Homo sapiens: one gene and its partners. The protein of the gene in region 6 interacts with the protein of the main gene of each other region in a biochemical or structural test. Each region holds a gene or a part of one and is shown on either strand. Other genes may lie near its edges. The genes, in order: TMPO, DSC2, CDCP1, MAP3K21, ITGA5, CLK1 and PKD1L1.

The links.
Region 1: of the proteins of CLK1 (region 6) and TMPO, one has a biochemical effect on the other in vitro, tested with the Homo sapiens proteins (one large-scale study listed by BioGRID).
Region 2: of the proteins of CLK1 (region 6) and DSC2, one has a biochemical effect on the other in vitro, tested with the Homo sapiens proteins (one large-scale study listed by BioGRID).
Region 3: of the proteins of CLK1 (region 6) and CDCP1, one has a biochemical effect on the other in vitro, tested with the Homo sapiens proteins (one large-scale study listed by BioGRID).
Region 4: of the proteins of CLK1 (region 6) and MAP3K21, one has a biochemical effect on the other in vitro, tested with the Homo sapiens proteins (one large-scale study listed by BioGRID).
Region 5: of the proteins of CLK1 (region 6) and ITGA5, one has a biochemical effect on the other in vitro, tested with the Homo sapiens proteins (one large-scale study listed by BioGRID).
Region 7: of the proteins of CLK1 (region 6) and PKD1L1, one has a biochemical effect on the other in vitro, tested with the Homo sapiens proteins (one large-scale study listed by BioGRID).

The regions. Positions count from the first base shown.
Region 1 is NC_000012.12:98,539,590-98,543,089, reverse strand, and holds part of TMPO (thymopoietin), read right to left. Parts: intron 1-3,500. UniProt on the Homo sapiens protein: May help direct the assembly of the nuclear lamina and thereby help maintain the structural organization of the nuclear envelope. Possible receptor for attachment of lamin filaments to the inner nuclear membrane.
Region 2 is NC_000018.10:31,058,340-31,061,380, forward strand, and holds the end of DSC2 (desmocollin-2 isoform Dsc2a preproprotein), read right to left. Parts: 3' UTR 501-3,041; downstream 1-500. UniProt on the Homo sapiens protein: A component of desmosome cell-cell junctions which are required for positive regulation of cellular adhesion.
Region 3 is NC_000003.12:45,087,379-45,090,878, forward strand, and holds part of CDCP1 (CUB domain-containing protein 1 isoform 1 precursor), read right to left. Parts: intron 1,764-3,500; coding exon 1,676-1,763; intron 1-1,675. UniProt on the Homo sapiens protein: May be involved in cell adhesion and cell matrix association. May play a role in the regulation of anchorage versus migration or proliferation versus differentiation via its phosphorylation.
Region 4 is NC_000001.11:233,330,724-233,334,223, reverse strand, and holds part of MAP3K21 (mitogen-activated protein kinase kinase kinase 21), read right to left. Parts: intron 1-3,500. UniProt on the Homo sapiens protein: Negative regulator of TLR4 signaling. Does not activate JNK1/MAPK8 pathway, p38/MAPK14, nor ERK2/MAPK1 pathways.
Region 5 is NC_000012.12:54,405,767-54,409,266, reverse strand, and holds part of ITGA5 (integrin alpha-5 precursor), read left to right. Parts: coding exon 1-35; intron 36-312; coding exon 313-374; intron 375-465; coding exon 466-511; intron 512-1,031; coding exon 1,032-1,157; intron 1,158-1,390; coding exon 1,391-1,435; intron 1,436-1,574; coding exon 1,575-1,618; intron 1,619-1,760; exon of another isoform or gene 1,761-1,870; intron 1,871-3,340; coding exon 3,341-3,397; intron 3,398-3,500.
Region 6 is NC_000002.12:200,858,159-200,861,658, forward strand, and holds part of CLK1 (dual specificity protein kinase CLK1), read right to left. Parts: intron 3,309-3,500; coding exon 3,080-3,308; exon of another isoform or gene 2,058-3,079; coding exon 1,967-2,057; exon of another isoform or gene 1,589-1,966; coding exon 1,522-1,588; intron 1-1,521. UniProt on the Homo sapiens protein: Dual specificity kinase acting on both serine/threonine and tyrosine-containing substrates.
Region 7 is NC_000007.14:47,945,641-47,949,823, reverse strand, and holds the start of PKD1L1 (polycystin-1-like protein 1), read left to right. Parts: upstream 1-1,383; coding exon 1,384-1,427; intron 1,428-4,183. UniProt on the Homo sapiens protein: Component of a calcium-permeant ion channel formed by PKD1L2 and PKD1L1 in primary cilia, where it controls cilium calcium concentration, without affecting cytoplasmic calcium concentration, and regulates sonic hedgehog/SHH signaling and GLI2 transcription.

The DNA of each region.
Region 1 (3,500 bases), on a different chromosome or scaffold from region 6:
AAAACCCCACAAGTTACAGACATAGTCTCATAAATCATGGTTTTGTATTTATCTATATTTGGAATTGATATTATAAGAGTTTTAAGTCACAATCTGAATCTCTGGGTTCCTCATCCTATCAATTAGGAAGTATTTGCTGAATGCAAAATTATTGTCAAAAGAGAAACTTGTAAACAAATTACAGACATACACAGAGTAACTGCTTTTTAATTTTTATTTTATTTATTTTTTTGAGACAGAATCTCGCTCTGTTGCCCAGGCTGGAGTACAGTGGTGCAATCTCCACTCACCGCAACCTCCACCTGCGAGGTTCAAGTGATTCTCCTGCCTCACCCTCCTGAGTAGCTGGGATTACAGGCACGCACCAGCACACTTGGCTGATTTTTTTGTATTTTCAGTAGAGACAGGGTTTTGCCATGTTGGCCAGGCTGGTCTCCTGACCTCAGGTGATCCACCCACCTGGGCCTCCCAAAGTGCGGGGATTACAGGTGTGAGCCACTGCACCTGGCCAGAGTAAGTGGTTTTTAATAGTCAAATTACCAACTATTTGAATAGACGGAAAGGTAGTTTTATAATCTGAGATTCTCAATCCTTGTGGCACAGTACCATCAAGGAGAGCTTTAAAAAAAAAAAAAAAAGCAAATGCCCCCAACTACCATAACCAATTAAATCAGAATCTCTCCAGGTCTGGGAATAGATAATTTCTAAAGCTCCTGAGATAACTAAAAGCCATCTTGAAGGCCTATCAATTTAAGTAAAACATGACCAATATGGTTACTCGTACTAACTTTATTAAAAAACAAAACAAAACAAAAAAGCCTCATATTCCTCCATTTGAGAACAGTACTTTCAAACACTGCTGGTGGGAATGCAAAATGCTTCAACTCATATGCAGAGAAATGTAATGGTGAAATTACCTAGCAATTTTACTGGTACGCTTCCCCAAGATAAACTGGCAAAAAATATGCAGTGACACATGCAAAATGCTGCTCCATGGTTCATCCTGGCATTATTCATAGCAACATACAGCTGAAAACAACTCAAATATTCACCAAATGGAGAGTGGTTAAATAAATTACAGTACATCCATAAAATGCAACACATAAAATGCAGTTGTACAAAGCAATGAGGAAGATGGCTACGTTCCGATATGGAGTGATCTCTAGGTTTAGGTTAAAAATGGAAATGTACAAAGCAGGCTGCATTTTATGTAAAAGGGGAGCATATAAAAATCTATATATTTACTTATATTTTTAAAAAGAAACAAAATATAAATCAAAACAATAAAAATGCTTATCTGTAGATGGAAGGGAAAAGGACAGAAGCCAAAATTCTGACTCTACCTTATTTTGCCTACATAAAACTACATTATACTCTCAACACAATTAAAAAATAATAAAAGAAAAAGCAATCCTAGCATTAGAGAACAAAAAAACCTAACTATTAAGTTGGTGGCTGTATGACACAAAAAAATTCTTTCAAGTGACTTTAAGCACAGTGTTTTGACATTACATTCTAGTGGGATATGTCCTAAAGACAAGGAAAACAAAAGCCCAAATTGCATTTAACAGTCTTATTGTTAGTAGTAATACTGTATTATTTAGAAACACATATATGTTGTGATACTTACATAAGTAACAACATCATTTGAAGAACCAAGATATTCAGCATAAGATAAAAATGATACAAGTATAACATAACCCAAAATTAGCCTGTATTTATAAATTTGAAATATCACCATTAATTCATGATTTACCTAGCACTACCTACTGAAAAGACCCAGAAACAATGACAACCAGTAGGAATGAACATGTCAGCATCCAAATTGTTGCTTCCAAATAGTATTATCTATTAAAAGGATCACGGTTCCTTAGAAACATGGCTGATTCCAGGCATGACGCAGGAAGTATACATGAGCCTGGGACGTCTTACTATTCCAGAAAACAAGAAACTATCAAAGATAAATGGGGGAAGGAATTAAAAAATACAGGAACCAACTTAGTAATTCCTAATGGCTACAGATGGCACAATGTGAACATCAAAAAAGAATGATGACTGTAACTGATCATAAATTCAATACATAAAAAAAACCTCAAAATAATAGACCTAGGCAATAATCATATGACAATGGCTGTTAGAACCATTAAATGAAAGGACAATGTGGATCTTTATAACAGATGGATTAATCTTTCAAAATCTAAATCAATTACTAATTTTAGCATCGCCAGAAAGACATTCTATACCTCCTAAAACGATGTAACAGGAAGGCCGCTATATCATTTAAGTATTCTTGTGAAAGAAACTGGACATGGATCTGACCAACCCTCTGGATCTGTGCCGTCCAATATGGTAGGCCACTAGCCACATATGGTCATTGAAATTTAATTTAAATTAAAATTAAAACATAGTTTCCGCCAGGCGCAGTGGCTCACGCCTGTAATCCCAGCATTTTGGGAGGCTGAGGCGGGTGGATCACCTGAGGTCGGGAGTTCGAGACCTGCCTGACCAACACGGAGAAACCCCGTCTCTACTAAAAATACAAAATTAGCCGGGCGTGGTGGCACATGCCTGTAATCCCAGCTACTCAGGAGGCTGAGGCAGGAGAATCGCTTGAACTTGGGAGGCAGAGGTTGTGGGGAGCTGAGATCACACCAACCTTGGCAAAAAGAATGAAACTCCATCTCAAAAAACAAACAAACAAAAACAAAAACAACAACAACAACAAAGCAAAACAGAGTTTCTCAGCCTCACTAGTCACCATCGAAGTATTCAATAGCTAGTGGCTACTGTAACGGATAGCACAGGTATGAAAAATTTCTATCACAGAAAGGTCTACTGCATAGCCTCACTACAGATCTAACCCACTCTACAGAAAATGCAGCGTATAGAGAAGCTAATTAAATGACATAAAGAAGCAACCTAACAAATCCAGAATGTTGGGAAATTCTGTAATGACCTGGTTTCTTCACCAAATAAATGGAGGGAAGAGAAAAAGTTACAGTGGTAACAGCTACAGACTTGAGAGAGTAAAACAACCAAAAATCAAACCGGATATGTGGATCCTGTCTGGATCCTGATTTGAACAACATAATCATAAACGAAACATTTCTGAAACTAGAGAAATTTAAACATGAATTAGATACAAATAAATTATTAATTTTATTAGGTGTGATATTGGCATTGTCACTGGAATAGCACTTATCTTTCAGAGATATATGCTAAAATGCTGACTTTTTAATGTGTGAAACACTATGTCAAAGACTGCTTTAATATACTCCAGGAAAAAGCAAAATAAAAAAAATCAAAAGCAATTTATTGCCAGGTGCGGTAGCTCATGCCTGTAATCCCAGCAATCTGGGAGGCCAAGGCGGGTGGATCACCTGAGGTCAGGAGTTCGAGACCAGCTTGGCCAACATGGTGAAACCTGGTCTCTACTAAGAATTCAAAAACTAGCTGGGCATGGTGGCGGGAACCTGTAATCCCAGCTACTCAGGAGGCTG
Region 2 (3,041 bases), on a different chromosome or scaffold from region 6:
ATTGAAGTTTGAGGCAGTGGAAAGAAAAGATCTTCCTCTGAAAACTCTGGACATTTGGTGGAGTCACACCTCAGCAAAGGACTTAAGTTAGCCCTAAAGTCTCCACCAAACCTGCCCTAAGAAAACTTAAGAAGAAACCTCAAAAGGACTCAATTTATTTGTTTAATAAATAACTTAAACTGCCGCCGGAACAAGGCTCAACAAGTAACAAAATTGATTTTGTTTATTATAATAAGGTAAAATTCCCAATGTCCAGCACTAACTTGTTTACAATTTTAAAACAAGCAAGCTTTTGACAGCTTTCTTCCCTGAATGATAACAGAAACTCACAGTACACCTGGCTCCCCACAGGAGGACATTTGCCATTGATTCCAAAGGAATTCTGTAATGATGTAAATGTGAAGGGATTGGGACATCTCTTGCTAAAAAAGGTCACACACACACACACACACACACACACACACGCACACGTAATATTTGTAAGAACATTCCATTACAGATTTTTTGTGGCACTTTTTAATAGTACGTCTCCGTGAACATATTATATCACTTCTGGGACTACATATTTTTGAGAGCAGAGGCCATATCTTACATACAGTAGATACCAAATAAATTTTAACACCGAACATTTACATAGAACTATGTTCTAGCAATTTTTTAAAGCAGATGAGGAAACTGAAGACTAGGGAGGTTCAGGTTACACAGATGGTTTGTGGTAGAGCCCAGATCTGAACCTTGCCTGTTGGGCCCCAAGGGACCCAAAGTTCAGGCTCTATCCCAGACCGCTCTGTTAGGTTGCATGGAGAATGCGATGCATTGTGCAAAGATTAACTGTGATTGTGTCTACTACAGGAGAAATAAGGAGCAGCTTAGCTTGCTAAAAAGTGAACACATTTAATTGGTTTAAACTTGCATTCATTATGCAAACTTTGCTTGAAATATTTCATTTGACAATTCTAGTAAATTAATACCTATTCTTAGTCTAGATAGTGCATAACAAATTACTGACGACAAATCCTAAGTGCGTTAAAGTAAAATTTTAAGACCAAAAGCACATGAATGCACTCAGTTATGATAATGTGAGATGATACAGTATTTTCTTTTTGCTTTCAATTTAATCATTTACTGTAAATATAATATGTTCAGTGAAAACTTTATTTATTAAAGCTAAGATGAAAAGGCTTTTCTTCACAGGCCTGTAAGCTCCCCAAATTCTAAAGCCTGTGAGTTTTTCTTGCTCTGTATTTCATTTACATGAACTTTTCCCTCAATGTTATAAATTATAAATGCTTGTGGTAAAATGAAAACATGGAAACACACAATGAATAAATATTTCATTTACCGAGGATTTATCACTCAATATCTTAGTGTATTACAGATAGTCTCATATTTATTTAAATGTGAGATTATAATAATTTGGAAACCTATCCTAGTTTTAAAATACTACTATAGTTTATGTCTTTTCCCATTTAATTAAAGTTTTCAAAATAAAATGATTGCATGATATTCCATCATCATATCACAATAGTGATAGCTGCTGGTTATTGATATACTGATGAGCCAAGCAGTAAGCTAGGATCTTTATGTGAATTATATAATTTATTCCTAATTTGTCCTTATTTGATATGCTAGAAATTTGAGGTTTCTGTGATTTCCCAAGGTAACACAGCAAGAACAAAGCTGAGATTTGGATCCACGTCTTTCTGACTGCGAAGTCTGTGTGTGATCATTGTTTCCATTGTCCTCAATTATGGTACATTGTATCACAGTAATGGATCATACATCATTTAATTACTTCCCTGTCATGGAACATTTAGTTTATTTTCAGTTATTCATATATTTAATGCCACTGAGACAAACATCCTTGCATGTGAGTAGAATCTTTACACTATTCTCTTACTTCTTTTGGATAAATCCCTTTTACTTGATTTCATTGGTAATTCTGCATCACATCTTGTGTATATTGACACCCTCTGCTCCTTTCACCTCTGGCTTTCTGAGCCTCTCATTCCCTATTGGTTAACTCATGTCCTTGGTGCCTGGGAGTTTTCCAATTGGCCCTGTTCCCAGGGGAACACTCCTTAAGCTGAAAAGTCTCGTCTCTACCCTCATCTCCCATCCCTGATTCACAGGCCCCTCTGAAGCTCCTGGCCGCCACAGTCAGTGAGCATTACCTGTTACCCCACCTGACACAGGTCCCCACACAACAGCACAGTGATGCCAAACAGTTGCTGCCTTCTGGACAGTCACTTGTTCCACCTGCTGTTGACCTTTCTAGTTCTATTTATCTCTGGAGATTTGGCAATTCTGATTTTTAAAAATATATGCAACTTACTTTGCATACATCTTCTTGACTAGCAGCATTTATGTGGCAAAACTTGTTAATTTTTATTAAATGTTTTCTGTGTGGCTTTGTTCTGCATTCCTACCTTAAGACTATTTCTCTCGTTCACATGCATGTAGAAAGTAGAAACCACAGGGAACAATGTACATTCTGAAATGCTTAATTTGCAGACATTGTGAAATTTTACTCATCAATGTGTTTCAACTCTTTGGTACATTTCTAGCATTTTGCTTAATATGTTTTATATGAAAAGGCAAATTTTAAATACTTAAGTTTCATAAACCACCAAATAATCAATAAACCCAGTTACTAAAACCCTAACGATTGTCAAACTTTAGAGTAAGAAAAAATGACCTAGAAAATGTATTGAAAAGTGAAGGCTTCTATACTTTTCCCCTACTAGCCTGTTACTCCTGTGACTGATTCATGAGGGATCTCTATTTTCAGCAACACCAGGGTGATTCTGATGCTGATGGTCAGTGAAACACACTCTAAAAATTATACAAGCGAATATATCAGCAAGTTTGCCTTCATATTTGTTAACTGAAAAGCAGTGAGTGTTCTGCTCTGTCCTCTCCCTTGAATCCTAACAAAATAAGTAAACAGAAAAGATGTGGCTAGCAGAAACTCCACAATTCTAACCTCTCAGCTATGCCCAGATTTTCTGTAGGGATACAAAGGTACAGTCACAAAGGGA
Region 3 (3,500 bases), on a different chromosome or scaffold from region 6:
TCAGGCTTAAACTGGCGCTGTTTCAAGATGAGGCAAGTGCTGGATCTCGTTCCTTGTCCAATTCCCTCCTGATAAGGAACCTGGGGCCCAGTGTTAATGCCATGCTTCCCCAACTGGGTGGGCTATTCCGTGCACCGCAGATGGGAAAATTCCCTGAGAGAAACAGTAACATGATGTTTCCTTAAAAGCAGTCCTTTTTCCCCCATGTGTTATAGGTACAGCCACTTCTCATGGGGAAAAGACCTCCTGCAAGCCAGTCCTTCCTCATCAGCAGAGACATTTGTAGACAGTCTTGTTGTAGACTAGGAATTTCAGTTCTTTGCTCAGGTCCACAGTTAATTTTTAAAAAAGAATTTTTTGGCTGGGTGTGGTGGCTCACGCCTGTAATCTCAGCACTTTGGGAGGCCGAGGCGGGTGGATCACAAGGTCAAGAGATCGAGACCATCCTGGCCAACATGGTGAAACCCTGTGTCTACTAAAAATACAAAAAAAAATTAGCTGGGCGTGGTGGCGGGTGCCTGTAGTCCCAGCTACTCGGGAGGCTGAGGCAGGGGAATCGCTTGAACCCGGGAGGCGGAGGTTGCGGTGAGCCGAGATCGCGCCACTGCACTCCAGCCTGGCAACAGAGTGAGACTCTGTCTTAAAAAAAAAAAGAATTTTTTCAGATTGGCTTTTTGGAAGGTCAAACCATGTTAAGGAAAATAGCTCTCTTCTCTCTCCCATGACTTTAGTCAGAAATATGAGCAGAATTTATACAGTTTGGCGGCAGCACGGACTCTGTCTAAAAAGGTCAACATTTTCCTTTTATAAAATAGAAGCTCAGCCAGGTACGGTGGCTCATGCCTGTAATCCCAACATTTTGGGAAGCCAAGGTGGGTGGATCACTTGAGGTCAGGCGTTTAAGACCAATCTGGCCAATAAGGTGAAATCCCGTTTCTACAAAAAAATACAAAAAAAATTAGCTGGGCGTGGTGGTGTGTGCCTGTAGTCCCAGTTACTCGGGAGGCTGAGGAAGGAGAATCACTTCAACCCAGGAGGCGGAGGCTGCAGTGAACCGAGATTGCACCACTGGCAACAGAGCAAGACTCTGTCTCAAAAATAAATAAATAAATAAATAAAACAGAAGTTGTCCTCCTGAGGGGATGGAAAGAGAGACTGAGGCAGTTAACTGGGCCTTCCTTCCTCTGGGCCACAGGCCTGGCCTCTGTTACATACCTGGAGCCCAACAGGCAAGGATAAAGCAGTTTGCTTAAGAAACTGCAGGAGAACAAGCTGGGACAACACACATTCGTTCTCCTTAGGGTGACGGAGGGAGTGGTTTCAGAGGCACAGTCTGGCAGAGCCTACGTGAGCATTTTCTTGCCAAGATCACTCCTGCTTGATCAATCTACTGAGCAAACAGCACTCTGCTTGCAGGGGACTTGTGCTGAGGCAGCTGCACCATGAACTACATACAGGTGAAAATGTCACGTGTGTTTTATCCCCCCCTCACCCCCAGGCATGGGATTTTTTTTCTCCTGAAAGCATGACTCACACCTGGCAATATTGTTTAACATTGATCTTTGGGGGAAAAAATGGGAAGCAAGAAAACAAAGTCAATAATGAACAATCCACCCAGTCTGTGTGATCTGAGGAGGCATCAAATCAGATAAAGAGAGTAAGAGATTCCACCTACTTCTTTTTCACACAGCAAATGATGAGCCCGAGGGCAGACAGCAGTAAGACTCCACCTCCCACCGCTGCGATGAGGATGACAGTCAAGTCTGTGAGCAGAGACATAAAGAGACAGATGAAGAGGCAGCTGGGGTGAGCTCTGCAATGAACTTGAGGCATCTCCAAAAGCAGCTGCCATCTCTCCAAAGGTGGAGCGCCATACATGTGGCTCCTTGTGTGCACATGGGGCTCCTCATATCACAAAGTGTTTATTTCCTTTCCTCTTGGATCTGGGTCAGCCAATATAAGGCAACTGTGCCAGTTCTGGGCCTAACTTTTAAGAGGATGTCAGCTTGCACTTTCTCTCTGAGAGAAAGCCAGCTACTATGTAAGAAGTCTGACTATGCTGAGACCACCATGCTGTGAGAAAGCCCAAGCTAGCCATGTAGAGATTCCACCGGGGAAAAAAATCAACCCAGTGAGAACCAAAGGCCATAGACATATGTCTCCAGTTGAATTCTCCAAGCCATCCTCTCTACTTGTTCAAGGCTTCTGGTTGGGGCCCCAGATATCCTGGAGCACAGATAAGATACACTGCTGTGCCCTGTCTGAATTCCTGATCCATAAATCGTGGGTAAACAAAATAGCTATTGCCAAAGCCACCAAATTTTGGGGTAGTTTGTATATAGCAATGAACAATTGAAACAAACTGAGGGACCTACCAGATCAACTTCAAAGGCTACTCCTGGCCTACAACAGGTGTGTTCCACTGATTGCCACAGCCTGTCTTGGAGAAGAGAAGAGCAGAGGAGGGTAGGAGAAAGCAGGGAGTCAAAAGTCAGAAGTGAGGCAGCTAAAGGGAGGGTTGTTTCCTTTGTGCTGTCCTTTTCCTGCAGCTGCACAAAGGAAAAAGAAAATAAATCAGAGGGGGAACCCTGTACCAAACAGCGAATTAGAATGTCTTGCTTATTCACCAAGAAAACAAAAGGTGAGATCCAAAGGAAAGAGGAATGGAAAGAAATGACAGAAAATGAATCTAAGAGAGGAAGAAAACCCAGGATATAATCTATGAGTGTGGAGAGGTTTTCACTTGTGGCATTTGGCTCCCACCAGTTCTCTTGAGGCTAACCAGTTGTGTGGCTTGGATGGACCTTCAATCACTCTGACCCCCAGAAAGGGAAAGGGAAAAAAGCAGCCTCCACAGTCCCTTCTGATTCTGACACTGTGATGCTCGGTGCCTTCACTGAGTAAAGGGCAGACATGGCCCCACCACAGCCTGCCCTGCCACACCTGCATTCCCTTGCTTGATACCCTTTAGTGGTGCCCATGACTTTGAGGAATAAAGGCAAACTCATCATCCTGGCTCCAAGGCCTCCCACTGAGGGTATTTCATGGATTCCAACGTTTCACTGAGACTAAACAAAAAACCATGTACCTGTCAGACTTTTCAGGTCCCCATATTTTAATTCATGACACCGAATCCCATGATACTTTTATGAGGTGGCTATTATTATCTACTCTCTGTAGATGAGGAAGATCATAGGTGTGAAGAGACTTCCCCTACGTAAAAGAGAGATGAATGGTAAAGGATGCTGGTAGATTGACTAAAAAAAATCTAGGCTGGCCAAAAGAATGCAGTCGAAGGGATGGTGTGTGAGTTCCTAACCTAAAAGTATCAAAAGACCTTATATGCCTCCTCCAGTCTCTTGTGGATCTCTCTGCCTCTGCCATGAAAACAGCCCAGGCTGGAGAACAAGAGATCATGTAGAGTCAAGCCAAGTAATCTCAGTTGTCTCAGATGATCTTGGCTGAGCCTCAGCTTTTTGAAAGCACCAAGCTAAGATCAG
Region 4 (3,500 bases), on a different chromosome or scaffold from region 6:
TTGAGACCAGCCTGGGCTACACAGCAAGACCTTGTATTAAAAAAAAAAAAAAAAAAAAAGTCCAGGCACGGTGGCTCACACCTGTAATCCCAGTACTTTGGGCGGCCGAGGCGGACGGATCACGAGGTCAGGAGATCAAGACCATCCTGGCTAACACGGTGAAACCCCATCTCTACTAAAAATACAAAAAAAAATTAGCTGGGCGTGGTGGCGGGCGCCTGTAGTCCCAGCTACTCGGGAGGCTGAGGCAGGAGAATGGCGTGAACCCGGGAGACGGAGCTTGCAGTGAGCCAAGATCGTGCCACTGCACTCCAGCCTGGGGACAGAGCGAGACTCCGTCTCAAAAAAACAAAAACACACACAAAAAAGCCAATGCTGTTTCCCTTAGCTGCACTATTCTGGTAGGTTTAGCACTTAAATGCTAGTGTGAAAAAGCAGGGCTTACAAATGACCTTCTTAAATGGGTAGAGCAGATAAATACTTTCCTCTGTCTCCTTTACCCTGCTTTGATATACTTGATAATGATTACAAAACTGATCAAATACGGATACTTTGCATAATTCAGAACTAACTAGCTATACCCCTCACAACTACAAAAAAATAAGACATTGCCTATTTTTTTTTTTAATTTTAATATTTGTAGTCCAGGGTCTCACCATGTTCCCCAAGCTGGTCTCAAACTCCTGGGCTCAAGCGATCCTCCCACCTTGGCCTCCCAAAGTGCCAGGATGATAGATAGGTATGAGCCACTACACCTGGCCAGCTACTTACTTTTTAATACGCAAACATGAAAATGATGGGGGAAGATGTGGTGACTCTTTTGTGATTGCCATTCTTCTAAAAGTCTAATCTTTCACTAACTTTGTTTCAAAAGCAGATGTAGATCTCAGTTACCATTGGGACATCTGGACTGACTTCTCTGTGCCTCCTGGAATAGGAAGCAGCTATAGCATGAAGCTACATGTCCTGAGTATAAGAACAGAAGAGAGAAGGAACTTATGTCTTACAACTGATAATAGTGAAATTAGTAGCTTCCCCAAATCACTCTGATGAGCTATTTAAACATCTTATCTGGAGATTACATTTTCCATAATTTTCTCAGATAGTTCTTTTATTTACACAGTACTAATGAAAAAAAGCTAAAACAAAATTTATATTCCTTTTGCAGTTTGTCATAGTAAGAGCTCCAAATGGCATTTCATAATAAATACAACTATTGTAGTTGTAAATAATACTGTAGATAGATAATAATTATTCCTAAAAGACTAAAAAAATTGAGATAATAAATGCTTAATCACTGACATAAAAAGTATAAAAGTAAGTAGCTACCATAATTTGTGGCTCAGTTCCCCATGGAAAGTTTATTTCCTCTTAAGAAAAAAAAAATAGAACACAATAAGCAACATCAAAAAAGAAAAAGGAAACCATACATGATGCCACATAATCTTACTTCAATCTTGCACTTCTGCAATTTGATAAATAAAACTCTTAAACAAAATTCTAATATTTCAAACCATCCTTGGGAATTCTTATATTGCAGTATTTTATCTTCACTGCCCCCTGGTAACCTCCCTGCAAAATACTTCCATTGCTACCACTCTGGGCAGAGTCGGTGCCTCCTCTCATATAGACAACCTTGAAAGCCATCACTTGAGCCCACTGCAGTCCGTTCTTCACAGAAGCCAGCACCATCACTCCAAGTGAAACCTCCATGTGCACAGCAGAGGGAGGCCTGCCAGGCCTGCCCCACGCATGCCTCTCCTCACCAGCCTTCTCCTTAGGCCTCCAATATGGAAGGCTCATTTTTGCTTCCTCTTTCCTTTGCCTGGGTCTTTGCTTGACGAATTCGTGGTCCTTCCTCGGAGTGCCTTCCCTGGAGAGCCCCTGTGTGAAACAGCACCCCCATCCTCCACTCTACCACTCTCCACCCCTTACCATGCTTAATTTTCTTGATGGCATTTTCTAATCTATTTGTTATTACGTGACTGCCATCTATCTTCCCCGTTAGACTAAGCTCTATGATGGCAGATTTGTTGTCATTGATGTCTGGCTTGCCAGTGTCCCTGAGGCCCAGAAGTGACTGGCACAGGGTGGGCATTCCAACAGTGTTGAATGAGTTCCAGCTCTCCACAATGTTTCTCTCTTCTGTAAATGCGCATAACACTGGCGATTTTCACAGTAACTCAAAGTTGCCTTGTATTGTTCTCTGGGGGGTGCCTATAGGTAGACTTATATAAAGTATTTTCTACTTATTTTGCATCCAGAAGGGAGTTACAGGGCCTAGTATTTATTTAAAACATAAATGTTGCTTAAAGCTTGCTAACTTGGCACAACTTTCAACCTGTTGCTACCTGTTAGAAAAGGGACAAAGTTGTTTATATCATTCACAACATATCAGCTATTATCTAGACACAGACATTCCCTCACAAGATATGATAAAACTTGAGAAGATCTACTAGAAAAGATAAAAGAAAATCTGTCAAGAGTAACATATTCTCTAGACAAATTTAAATATTTGTTTAAAACAGTAATTTCCACTGAATTGGCTCCAAGTAGTCTTCTATTAGCTCTTTGGTACATGAGTACACTTCGGAGTGAAAATAAAATTCAATATTGATTTTTAAAACCTTGTTTACGTTATCACTAACTCACTACCACCATTAGCAAATATCCAATAAAATCAAACAAAACATACTGCAATAGAGTATCTGTTATACTTAAAAGTCTAAACAAGAAGTCATAGCTTCATATATCAGCAGAGAATTTCAAATCTGCATTTATTCATTGAACAAATAAAATCAGACATTCAGGATAAAGACCATGTATGAGGCACCATGGTTTGCACATTCTAGACCCCAGTCAAACTCTTCACTTTATAGTAATTAAATAACTATGATAATGGTCATATTGTAACAAATACTTGGCCAGGCTAGTGACTAGCTAATTAAGTCTTTTATAAGAGTGCAACAATTTAAAGCAAAGGGAATCCTGCCTGACAATTATAGAAATTAAAATACTCCGGGAAGTTTGGCAATTTATTCTGAGACTGAAAAGTCTTTCAAAAACTAAGTAGCAGCATGTAATCACCATCAAATTATGTAATATCTACTGAATACACAGTAGTCTATACTCCACTATACAAGTTTTTCTGGTGTCAGTAAAAACTGTTCGGCCATAGTTATTATTCCAGGGTCATGTTATTTCTTTTTACCATTTAATAATATTAGGAGTTCTTTAAACATTTATATTTTATAAAAGTTTATAAAACTTTATAAAACTTTATAAAAATTTACTATTTGCAATAATTGCTATGGATTGTTGATTGATCCATAAATCCTATGGATTAACCCATAGGAATGGATAAACATCCTTTAAAACATGCTTTAAAAACACTAGCAAACATTCTCTACCCTGTGTTGTATGAACTTTGAAAAGTATTGCAACCAAACAAAACTAAGTGCAGTGTAAAAGTAATAGCTATAGGCCCTTTAACTTTTTAG
Region 5 (3,500 bases), on a different chromosome or scaffold from region 6:
CACCCGAATTCTGGAGTATGCACCCTGCCGCTCAGGTAGGGGCAAGAGGGGGCCTGTGCCCCATGTCTGCCTTCTCATATACTTGAAGTGTCTCACATACTTAGGGTTGACTCGCACCTACCATGTGCCCCCATGAGGTTCTAGGTTGCTTAAGATAAAGGCTAACCCAGTTCGTTAGCCTTTATGCTTACTGTCTGGTCCAGGAAGGCCCTTTCTCTGGTTCTCTCTCCCACCTCCTTCCCTATGCCCTCTCTTCTTTCCTGGATGACCCATCTATGCAGGGCTCATTTTCACCACCTTCTCCCCTCACAGATTTCAGCTGGGCAGCAGGACAGGGTTACTGCCAAGGAGGCTTCAGTGCCGAGTTCACCAAGGTGAGAGAGTGGTCTGGGAGAGAAGGGGCCGTGGGTGGTGGACATGGGGGGATTGGGACCAGATGTTGGACTCCCCTCCTTTCACCCACAGACTGGCCGTGTGGTTTTAGGTGGACCAGGAAGCTATTTCTGGCAAGGTAAGTCCTGTCTCTGCCATTCTTTTTTTTTTTTTTTTTTTTTTTTGAGACGAAGTCTCACTCTGTCACCCAGGCTGGAGTGCAGTGGCACAACCTCTGCTGCCCAGGTTCAAGCGATTCTCCTGCCTCAGCCTCCCAAGTAGCTGGGATTACAGGCGCCTGCCACCGCGCCTGGCTAATTTTTGTAATTTTAGTAGAGAAGGGGTTTCACCATCTTGGCCAGGCTGGTCTTGGACTCCTGACCTCGTGATCCACCCCTCTTGGCCTCTCAAAGTGCTGGGATTATAGGCATGAGCCGCCGCGCCCTGCCTGTTTCTGCCATTCTTTAAGTCCCCTGGCACATAGCCTCCCACCCTACTCCCAATTCTCCTCTTCCTTTCCTGAAGCTTACATGCCACCACCCTCCCCATGCTTCCCTTTCTTGAACCAGACTTCTGAAATACTACCCAGTCAGCCCCCAGAGTCCCAAGCCCCCTCTGCCACTTCCTCTCCATCTACTCCCTCTTCATACTCTCTCCAGGCCAGATCCTGTCTGCCACTCAGGAGCAGATTGCAGAATCTTATTACCCCGAGTACCTGATCAACCTGGTTCAGGGGCAGCTGCAGACTCGCCAGGCCAGTTCCATCTATGATGACAGCTACCTAGGTGAGCAAGCAAGTGGGGAAGGGATGGCAGAGGGAGAACCTCAAGTGCTCCTGTCCCCACTCACCCCCTCGCCTCCCCTCTCCTACTCAGGCATCCCCAGCACCCCTGCCATACTTGTCATGTGCCTGCTGACTATGAAGGCCCAGTAGGGGTGGGGAAGGGATTGGTGGATAGGCCAGAGCAGAGGGGTCCTCAAAGCAGGAATCCTAACATCCACCCACCCTGTCCCCCAGGATACTCTGTGGCTGTTGGTGAATTCAGTGGTGATGACACAGAAGGTGAGTGTGTCCCCAGGCTGGGGCCAAGGGAGGGGGATGGTTAGAGGCACAGGGCCAGAGAGCCCATGAACTTGGCCACTTACCATTATCTGCTTCCCTTTCCCCACCCTTAGGTCACAACTTTCTCTTCTCTTTGCAGACTTTGTTGCTGGTGTGCCCAAAGGGAACCTCACTTACGGCTATGTAAGACCCAGCCTGACCCCTCACTTCCTCTCCTCCCCTGCCTAATCACAAAGAACCGTGCATGGCAGTTTGCAAGGGCTCAAAAAGGTGGATCAGAACATGGGCTCTGGAGGCAGACTGGCATTCAAGTTCTGGCACTTACTCTGGCAGAATCATTCTGCTCTTTATTCATACTCTGCTTCCTGCTGAACCTCTCTGAGCCTTCTTCTTCTCTGTATACTGGGATAACAATCGTTCTGACCTCACGAGGCTCTGGCAAGGATGAAATGAGAAAATGCATGTGAAAGTACTCAGTGAATTGTTAGGCAATGTACAACTGGCAGATGTTATTATTAGACCAGGACAAGTGCTTTTTAAAAGATACAGATAAGAGTGCCATCGGATTTCATTCAATTAACAACATTTATTAAGGCAAGGTAAGAGATAAGATGAATAAGGTATCATACCCCATCTTATAAGATGCTTCTAATCAAGTATGTTAGATAAGACACACATACAATTATGATCTAAAGTGGAGCAACTATTCATTCTCTACTCAGTGCATCAGGCACTATCTATTCATGATTTCTATTCTTCACAACAAGCCTATGGGGTAGATATTATCATCTGTATTTTGCATATGAGAACACTGAGGTTCTAAGAGACCAAGTAAGTTGCTTAAGATCACCCAGTTAGTAAGTAGGTTTAAAATCAGGTCTCTCTTAATCCAAAATCAGCATTCTTTCTGCATTTTGGTAAACTTCAGCAAAGTGGATACAGTGGCATAGCAGTTTAGGGGAAAGAATAATCTCCTTTCTAGGAAAAGGATGGTAACAAGTTTGGGGAGTCAGGAAATAAAAATTTTAAATTTTTAAAAAGGAAGAGGACAGATGAGAGAAGGTTCTATGAAGGTTCAGCAGAGATGAGGCAGGAGGGCATCCTGTGCAGGAGCATGAATGAGGTGGAAGAAAAGGAAACAATTTCAGCCCAACTTAGCAGACTCATGAGCTGATTGAGGATGAGTAGAATATGGAAAGGTTGAGCAAAAACAGATAGGTTAGGGCCAGATTCTCCAGAGCTTTGGAGGACCAGCCAAGAAGTTGAGACTTTGGGCAGTGACTGCAGGGGGCCACTGGATTTCCAAGCCAGAGGTAGCCTCCTAGATCTGCTGGGAGAGCTGGAGGCAGGGACATTGTCAAGACATCTGTCCAGCAGTCCTGGGAAAGGGCTCACACCAGGATTCAAGAGGCCTGGTGGGGCCAGTCACTAAGGGAATATAGGGGAGAAATGGTGTTTGTGGTTCGGGGGACTGGAGGATGAGGATGACTTAGGTTTTGAACGTGATGGGTTTGAGGCACCAGCACACATTCAGTCATAATTATTATTGAGTGCCTACTACTCACCAAGCATGACTTTAGGTTCTGAGGAGAAAGCAAAGAACAAAATCAAGTTCCTGCCCCTATTGATCTTACATTCTAGTGGGTAGAGAGGGACAACGAACAGATAAATACAAAATCTGTCAGTGGTTGGTGATTGATAGGGAGAAAAATAGTGAAGCAGACATAGGGTGGAACTACCTGGCATAGAGGTGGGAATATGAGGGCAAAGCTGAAGAGGGAGCTAGGGACAGTGGTCTGCGTCTCTAAGGAATGCCTGCCCCTGGGTGTCCTGTACACATCTGTTCTTTAACCATGGGATATTCTGGGAGTCCAGGACCAATGGGCCTATCTCTTCATCTCCCAGGTCACCATCCTTAATGGCTCAGACATTCGATCCCTCTACAACTTCTCAGGGGAACAGGTAAGGATACCCCTCAACCCCACCCCAGCTTGGCCTCTGTCAACGAAGCCCCAGCCCTGACCTAATAATGTCAGCCCAACTTCCCAGCCCCTCTTGATCCTGT
Region 6 (3,500 bases):
AAACTGTACTACTACTCTGACCCACTGTATTTTTTTAATTTATGGTTTAGTGTTCAGTTCTGATTCTATTACATGCTGAATGACACAAATTTCTTTCATCAAACCACCACTCACATGAGTTATTTTTTGGTATTTCAGCTAAACAACTTCTTCCTATATGGTACCTGTCACTGTCAAACATTATCTCAAATGTTCTTTTAGTCCAGGTTGCCAAAAGAGTTAGGATACAGTGGGGAAAGAGTAAAGAGCTCTAGGACCGGGAGCAGTGGCTCTCACGCCTATAATCCCAGCACTTTGGGAGGCCGAGGGTAGTAAATCACTTGAGGTCAGAAGTTCGAGACCAGCCTGACCAACATGGTGAAACCCTATTTCTACCAAAAATATGAAAATTAGCCAGGCACGGTGGTGTGTGCCTGTAATCCCAGCTTCCTGGGAGGCTGAGGCAGGAGAATTACTTGAACTCGGAAGGTGGAGGTTGCAGTGAGCCAAGATTGCACCACTGCACTCCAGCCTGGGCGACAGACCAAGACTCCATCTCAGGGAAAAGAAAAATAAACAAAAAAAGAGCTCTAGCTCTCATGTCCTTACCAATCAATAGTAGGAAGCCCCCTCAAAAATGCTTTGCCATTCAGGAAGAGGAAGAACAATAACAACAACAACAACAACAACAACAAACAGGGAACTAAAAAAAAAGAGTAACGGAAAAAATTCTATACTATCTTAAGAAATTTCATGGCTGGAGCCAAGCGCTCATGCCTGTAATCCCAGCACTTTGGGAGGCTGAGGTGGGCAGGTCACCTGAGGTCAGGAGTTCGAGACCAGCCTGGCCAACATAGTCTCTACTAATACAAACAATACAATACTAATACAAACAATAGCTGGGCATGGTGGCGCGTGTCTGTAGTTCCAGCTACTCAGGAGGCTGAGGCAGAACAATCACCTGAACCCGGGAGGCAGAGGGTGCAGTGAGCTGAGATTGCGCCACTGCACTCCACCCTGGGTGACAGAGCGAGACTCTGTCTCGAGAAAAAAAAAAATTTCAATCAGTAGTTTGATAAACATACATAATTAAACTTGGGACACCAAGTTATCTCCAGCTATGTTATCAGAATGAATTACAGCACTTCCTAAAAATATAGATTCCTAGGTAACTACCCTGAAAAGGTCTGGGGTAGGCAAACCTCTCGAGGAGGATCTTAACATAAAACCAAGGCTGAGAACCACTAATATGGTGGGGGAAAAAAATATGGCCTAACAACAGTGTCCAGTTGAACAACAAAACAATACTTTCAAAACAATATAAAGTGTGTTCTCAGCCTAAAATTAGAAATTATACATACTATTAGTAGCTGTTTAAAAAATATGAAGGGGCAAGTACCTCTTAACTGGAAGTGTCTTACATCCAAGTAAAAAAGGGTATAAAGATATGTATCTAACTCATGGTCAGACCACTTTCTAAAGCTAAATCAATTACCTGTATTGCCAACTTCCCTAAAAGTAATCCCAACATGGGAAACTTACGCTTTATGATCGATGCACTCCACAACTTTTCCAAAAGCTCCTTCACCTAAAGTATCAACAATTTCATCTAAAAGAGAGAAATAAATCTCAGTCATATCAAGAAGTGGAAACAATGTACTTATCACAATAAATGCTATCAATGTAGATTATTCTAGTTGATGCTACAAATTTCCTTATCACTAGATATTTTATTGGTCAACACCATCAAAAAACATAATTATTAGGTCTAATTTCATTAATTTGATTACTGTTCTGGAAGTTCTATATAACAAACATTACATTTCTAAAGAAAGCAAAAATACAATCCCCCCCACCAAAAGAAATGGAAAAATAAAACAAAAACAAAAAAGAGAAAGAAAAAAAGATTTCCAAATCCCTGAAAGCTTAATCTATATATAGATTATGTTATCTGAAAAGTTAATAAGTGTTGAAAAATATTCTATACATCTTGCACTTAGTACGTCTCCACTCTGACAGATCAGGTGACCCTCCTCATCATCCTCTACACTCCTGGTTCTTTTCCTTCGGTGACTCTTCTGGAAACGTCAAGTGGGCGGCACCAAGATCATCCAGCCAATCAATATACCCGAGTGAATTCAGGGCAGAATACGAAATTCATTCAGCGGGGAGATATTCAGGCATTCAGATACACGCCAGGCCACAAACGGTTGGCAGGAGCAATTTCAAATTCAGTCCCCAGAAATTCACAGGGCACATAGTTTATGTTAACAGGAGAAAAACATGGCAAGGAACAGATTTTCAGATAAGATACTCAAAGTGGCAAGGCAACAAAACATAATACAATTGTTTTTCTTAAAAAAAAAAAATGCTTAGTTGTAGCATTCACTGAAACATAATTTTTTAGTTTCTAGTGTTCTAATTTAATGTTGCAAAATCGTATGATGTAATATTTACTTGTCAAAGTAGGCGGTGGCCAAATTAAGATTTCCTACCTAATCTAAGAAAACAAATATTATAACAGTAAATAAAATTAAAGTGCTAATTTTGGGGAAAAAAAGATTTGGCATACAAGAATAACACTACGGCATTTTTAATGTCATCTGAGCTGATCTCCATACTAATATATAACCCATAACAGTTCAAATCTGTTCTGGTTTGCTTAGTGAAAGAAGGGTTAGAAAACATGACTTGTTAGAACAAAGAAGCATACCTAATCCTAAATTATACAAAAATAAAATGCCCTGTTCTACTTTTGTGATTTCAATAGATCAAAACTAATCAGGTTTCTTGAAGTACCACAAAAAACCCTTTTAGAATATTTTGTAATAATTTTCAACTAATCTAAATTAAATCAATTAACTCCCATCATTTCACTGGAATGTCAATTAGGAGCCAACCAATAATTAAATTATAGAACTAAATGTGTACTTTATTTCCGGAATTTCCTATCCAATGCACAAACACAGAAAAAATCCTGCAGGTTAAAACTGAGATGATTTCATCTTAAAACTTTCTCAAATAATCAAACACAAAAATTCAAGTTTCCCTGTTCCACATGGGATATAAAATTTCCAAAATGTTTTAAAAACGTTCATACCCCATGTGAACGACGATGTGAAGTACTGTGGTGAATCCTGTGTTTGCTTTTATAACTACTTCTTCCACTTCTACCAGAAGACTTGCTACTATGGTTCTGATACCGGCTTTCATGGTCTCTTTGGCGATGTCCAGGTTCACATCCTTGAGTGTAGTCATTTCTGTACTCATCAATGTAGCGTCGACTATGATAATCTTTCTCATTTATAGACCTGCTTTCCAAATAATGGCTAGAGAAATAAAAATTATTTTCAATGTTTTATGCTAAGACCAAATATCCTCACATTCTCTTCAAGACAGCACCTAGACTCCCCCACAAGCAGCTTAATTTTACAAACATTACAAACCATCAAAATCTCTCATTGGAAACAAACGAATGGTAGTAATCAGGTACTTATTTTAAGTGATACTAGTTTTGTCTA
Region 7 (4,183 bases), on a different chromosome or scaffold from region 6:
GGACACCCGTAGCTTGGTTCATCATTGTTCAAGGGGTCTGTGTTCCCATCTGAGAAAGAGCTTGTGCCTGAAAACGTTCCCACTCTTCTTGGTATCACTCTCTTCAGAGTGGAGAGAAAAAATATCTAGTGTTCTGAGTAAAACATTAAGTTTTCTAAAATCTCTGAAGGTTTAAATGTTGGTATAAAGAACTAAGACAACTAACAAGTGCTTTAAAAATATAAGAGAAAATGTTTCGTAATGGAGAGAACTCAGTCTGACCCGCCAGTTGCAAACAAGGAGAGGTGCAGGAGGTTCGGAACCAGATCATTCCTAGGTTCTGCCGTAAGACAGAGTGCGCCTAGTGTGTGCCTTGCCAGCCTTCCTTAGGAATGCTCTTCTGCTCTTGTGGAAGGTATCCTGTTCCCCAGTGCAGTTGTGGACAGTTACAGCTTTTTTTTTTTTTTTTTTTTTTTGAGACAGAGCCTCGCTCTGTTGCCCAGGCTGGAGTGTGGTGGCACGATCTCGGCTCACTGCAACCTCCGCCTCTCGGTTTCGAGCAATTCTCCTGCCTCAGCCTCCCGAGTAGCTGGGACTACAGGTGCGTGCCACCATGCCTGGCTAATTTTTGTATTTTTAGTAGAGACGGGGTTTCACTATGCTGGCCAGGCTGGTCTCGAGCTCCTGACCTCGTGATCCGCCCACCTCGACCTCCCAAAGTGTTGGGATTATAGGCGTGAGCCACCGCGCCCAGCCAACAGTTACAGCTTTTTATTCTCAGACTTCTCTCAGCTTCCATGTACAGTCTCTCCCTTGAGTAGTGATCTGTTTCAGGCAGCCACAAAGATCCCTACCTAAAACACACTTTTGTTTTGTTTTGTTTTGTTTCATTTTGTTTTTGAGGCAGAGTCTCACTCTATTGCACAGTGGTGCAATCTCGTCTCACTGCAACCTCCACCTCCTAGGTTCAAGCAATTCTCTCGCCTGAGCCTCCTGGGTAACTGGGATTACAGATGTGTGCCACCACACTTGGCTATTTTTGTATTTTTAGTAGAGACGGGGTTTCACCATATTGGCCAGGCTGGTCTCAAACTTCTGGCCTCAAGTGATCCACCCACCTTGGCCTCCCAAATTGCTGGGATTACAGACATGAGCCACCACGTCTGTCAAAAGCACACTTCTTAGGAAGGAATTTGTCTGACAGTGTTAGGAAAACAAAAGCTGTTTCTGCTTGGGAAAATGTTACTGGAGTTTGGATTTTTCCCTCTGTGTTTGATGTGTGTCCTGATAAGAGGTCACAAGTACAGAAGCTGGAAGCATTAAGCTCTATTTCTTTGTCTTCCAGAGGATGTAGGAAGAAGCTGGTCTGCTGACTGTCATACTTGTGACCAGCTTGCACAGGACATGGCCGAGGAGGCAGCCCAGAACATTTCTGATGACCAGGAAAGGTGAGTTATCACTGTTCTCAGAGGGTTTGGTAAGCTTGATTTTAAAGTATGCATTCAGAAATTTTCTTTCAAAAGTCATCACCTCTAGGATGTGGGCTCACTCTGGCACGAGTGGAGGCCCTGTACCAGGAGGGTGCATTTGGCCGGCGGGGTCAGTTCAGAGGTTGGAGTTGGTGTTGAGAATGGAGTTTTTTCCTGAAGGCTTTTGAGAAGACTCCTCCAAGCGGATGCCTTCAGCCATGAGAAGTGCTGATTGCTCTTCCTGCAAATGCAGGATACCTTCCAAGTTCGAGGACTTTCTGCTGCCTGGTAGTAGACAAAGTTAAGCTATCTGCTTGTCTGCTAGGTCCCTTGCATGGAGACCAGGAGAAACCTGGCACAGGAAGAGATCATGGGGTCTTGGCCCAGGGGTCTTATTTCTTTTTTTTTGAGACGGAGTCTCTCTCTGTTGCCCAGGCTCGAGTGCAGAGGTGCGATCTTGGCTCACTGCAAGCTCTGCCTCCTGGGTTCATGCCATTTATCCTGCCTCAGCCTCCCAAGTAGCTGGGACCACAGGCGCCCACCACCACGCCCGACTAATTTTTTGTATTTTTAGTAGAGACGGGGTTTCACTGTGTTAGCCAGGATGGTCTCGATCTCCTGACCTTGTGATCTGCCCGCCTTGGCCTCCCAAAGTACTGGGATTACAGGCATAAGCCACCGCACCCAGCCTCCATGGGTCTTATTTCTAAACCCTCTTCCCCATGCTCTGTGCGCGCCAGCACCCATGTGTTGTTGAGGCTGGGCAGCCTGTGTGCTCTGCTGTTGACTGTCTCATGGCAGTGTGACATGGTGCAAACCTCCATGCCCCCTTTCCTGGGCGTGAGGCCAGCAAGGTGACCTGCCTGTGGGATGTGGTAAGGACCCAGGTGGGTCACCGCTGTCCCCTGGCCTGGCATGATGGGAGCCTGTGCCTGCAGATCTTGCCCAGTGGGGTACCCCGCCACTGCAGGTCACTTTACCTCCTCACCCCCAGATTTCTCATCCTGAAAATCTGAGTACCCCTGTTGTCACATCTGTAAACTCCAGAGGGTCGTTATAAAAATCAGTATCCTTGATGAATGCTTGCTGTCAGCATTTCTGCCTTTGTTAGCTTACTGTCTTTGTGCCATCACCATCATTTTATCAAAGAAACCCAAAGCAAACCAGGATGAGAAAATGAGGCTGCACGTGTTGACGGGGTTGGTCACATTCATGCTTGGAAATTTCTTTGCCTTATGTCACTCACTGCTGCCAAGCATTGTCTGATTTTGGCTACAATTTTTTCCCTTATTTTTTCTGGTTACCTCATGTTTCTTTTATTCCAAATGCCCATGCTCCTGCAGACTCCCAGAGCCTTGATGTTGGCCCAATTTGACCTTCACTCTTATCAGTCAGGGAATTGCAAGGAATTACCCCTTTGCCCTTAGAAAGGAAAGAAAAGCTGAGGAGCGGAAGTCGCTGACTTGATGTTTTTTCCCCTGTATATTTATACATCTTGTACTTGCAGACCAACTAGTTCATGCACGCACTAGCCATTGTAATTGGTGTCGAGGCCCCATTTCTGAAGTCATAGCCTTTTGGGGTTTCCTGAGTCACCTAAAGCAAGACAGTGACTGATCTTGTTCATAGAAACAGAAGAGGTTTCTTGACTCTCCTGTAGCCCTCATTTCATGGAGTTAGGCCTGTAGTGTCTGTGTGTGTGTGTGTGGTATAGGACATGTGTGTGGGTGGTGTGGTGTGTGGTCTGTGTGTAGTGTGTGGTGTATGTGTGGTATGGTATGAGTGGGGTATGGTGTGTGTGTGATACATGGTGTGTGCTGTGTGATGTGTGTGTAATGTGTTGGTGTGTGTGTGGTGTTTGTGTGTATGGTGTGTTTGTGTGGTGCGTGGTGTGTGGTGTGTGCGATGTGTGTGTGGTGGGTGGGTATGTGCTGTGTGGTGTGTGTATATTGTGTGTGATGCTGTGTGGTGTGTTTGTGTGGTGTGAGTGTGGTGTGGTGTGAGTGTGTGGTGTGTGTTTGTGTGGTAGGTATTTGTCCTAATGCTCTCCCTCCCCTTGCCCCCCAGCCCCTGACAGGCCCCGAAAAACACTCACTCTTAAGGGATTCTAAGAGATCTGTCATGTAATTCAAACAAATGGCTCGACTAGTTCCCTTGAGGCACATGATGCCTCAGAGACTGTGTTTGAGCCATCAGTATCATCCTGTTCCCCGACAGTCACAGTTAACTAAGAGGAAGCCAGGTACCTCTGTGAAAATGGTGCTGATTCTGTGCCAGGGCCTGGGGACCTGCCTCCTCACAACACCAGGAAAAAGAGCCTCCCTTGTATTTAAATTATCTCCCCCTTCCATTTTTTTTATTTGAAAAGACCTCTGAAATCTCAAGGAAAATTAGCTTTGCAGCACTATCCTTGGCGCCTCTGTGAGTGGAGGACACACCTGTTGGGGATGTGTTTCTCACCTTCTGAGACAGAAAATTACTTCTCAAGGGCCAACTATGTCCCAGGAACCAGGGCTGGTGTTTTCTGTGTGTAGCACTTGGAAGTTATCCTGTTGTGGGGGTGTCTGGGAGGGTCTCGGAACTTGGTGGGTGCCAGGGCTATCTAACCTTGTGTGGGCCCAGAGTGGTGGGCAGTCTCACAGCTGTGGACTGTGGGGCGCACGTGGTGGACAGAGGTTAGGTTCGTCCTTTCCTTAATTTTATTTGCCCGCTAGATCATTGCAGAAATCCTCTAA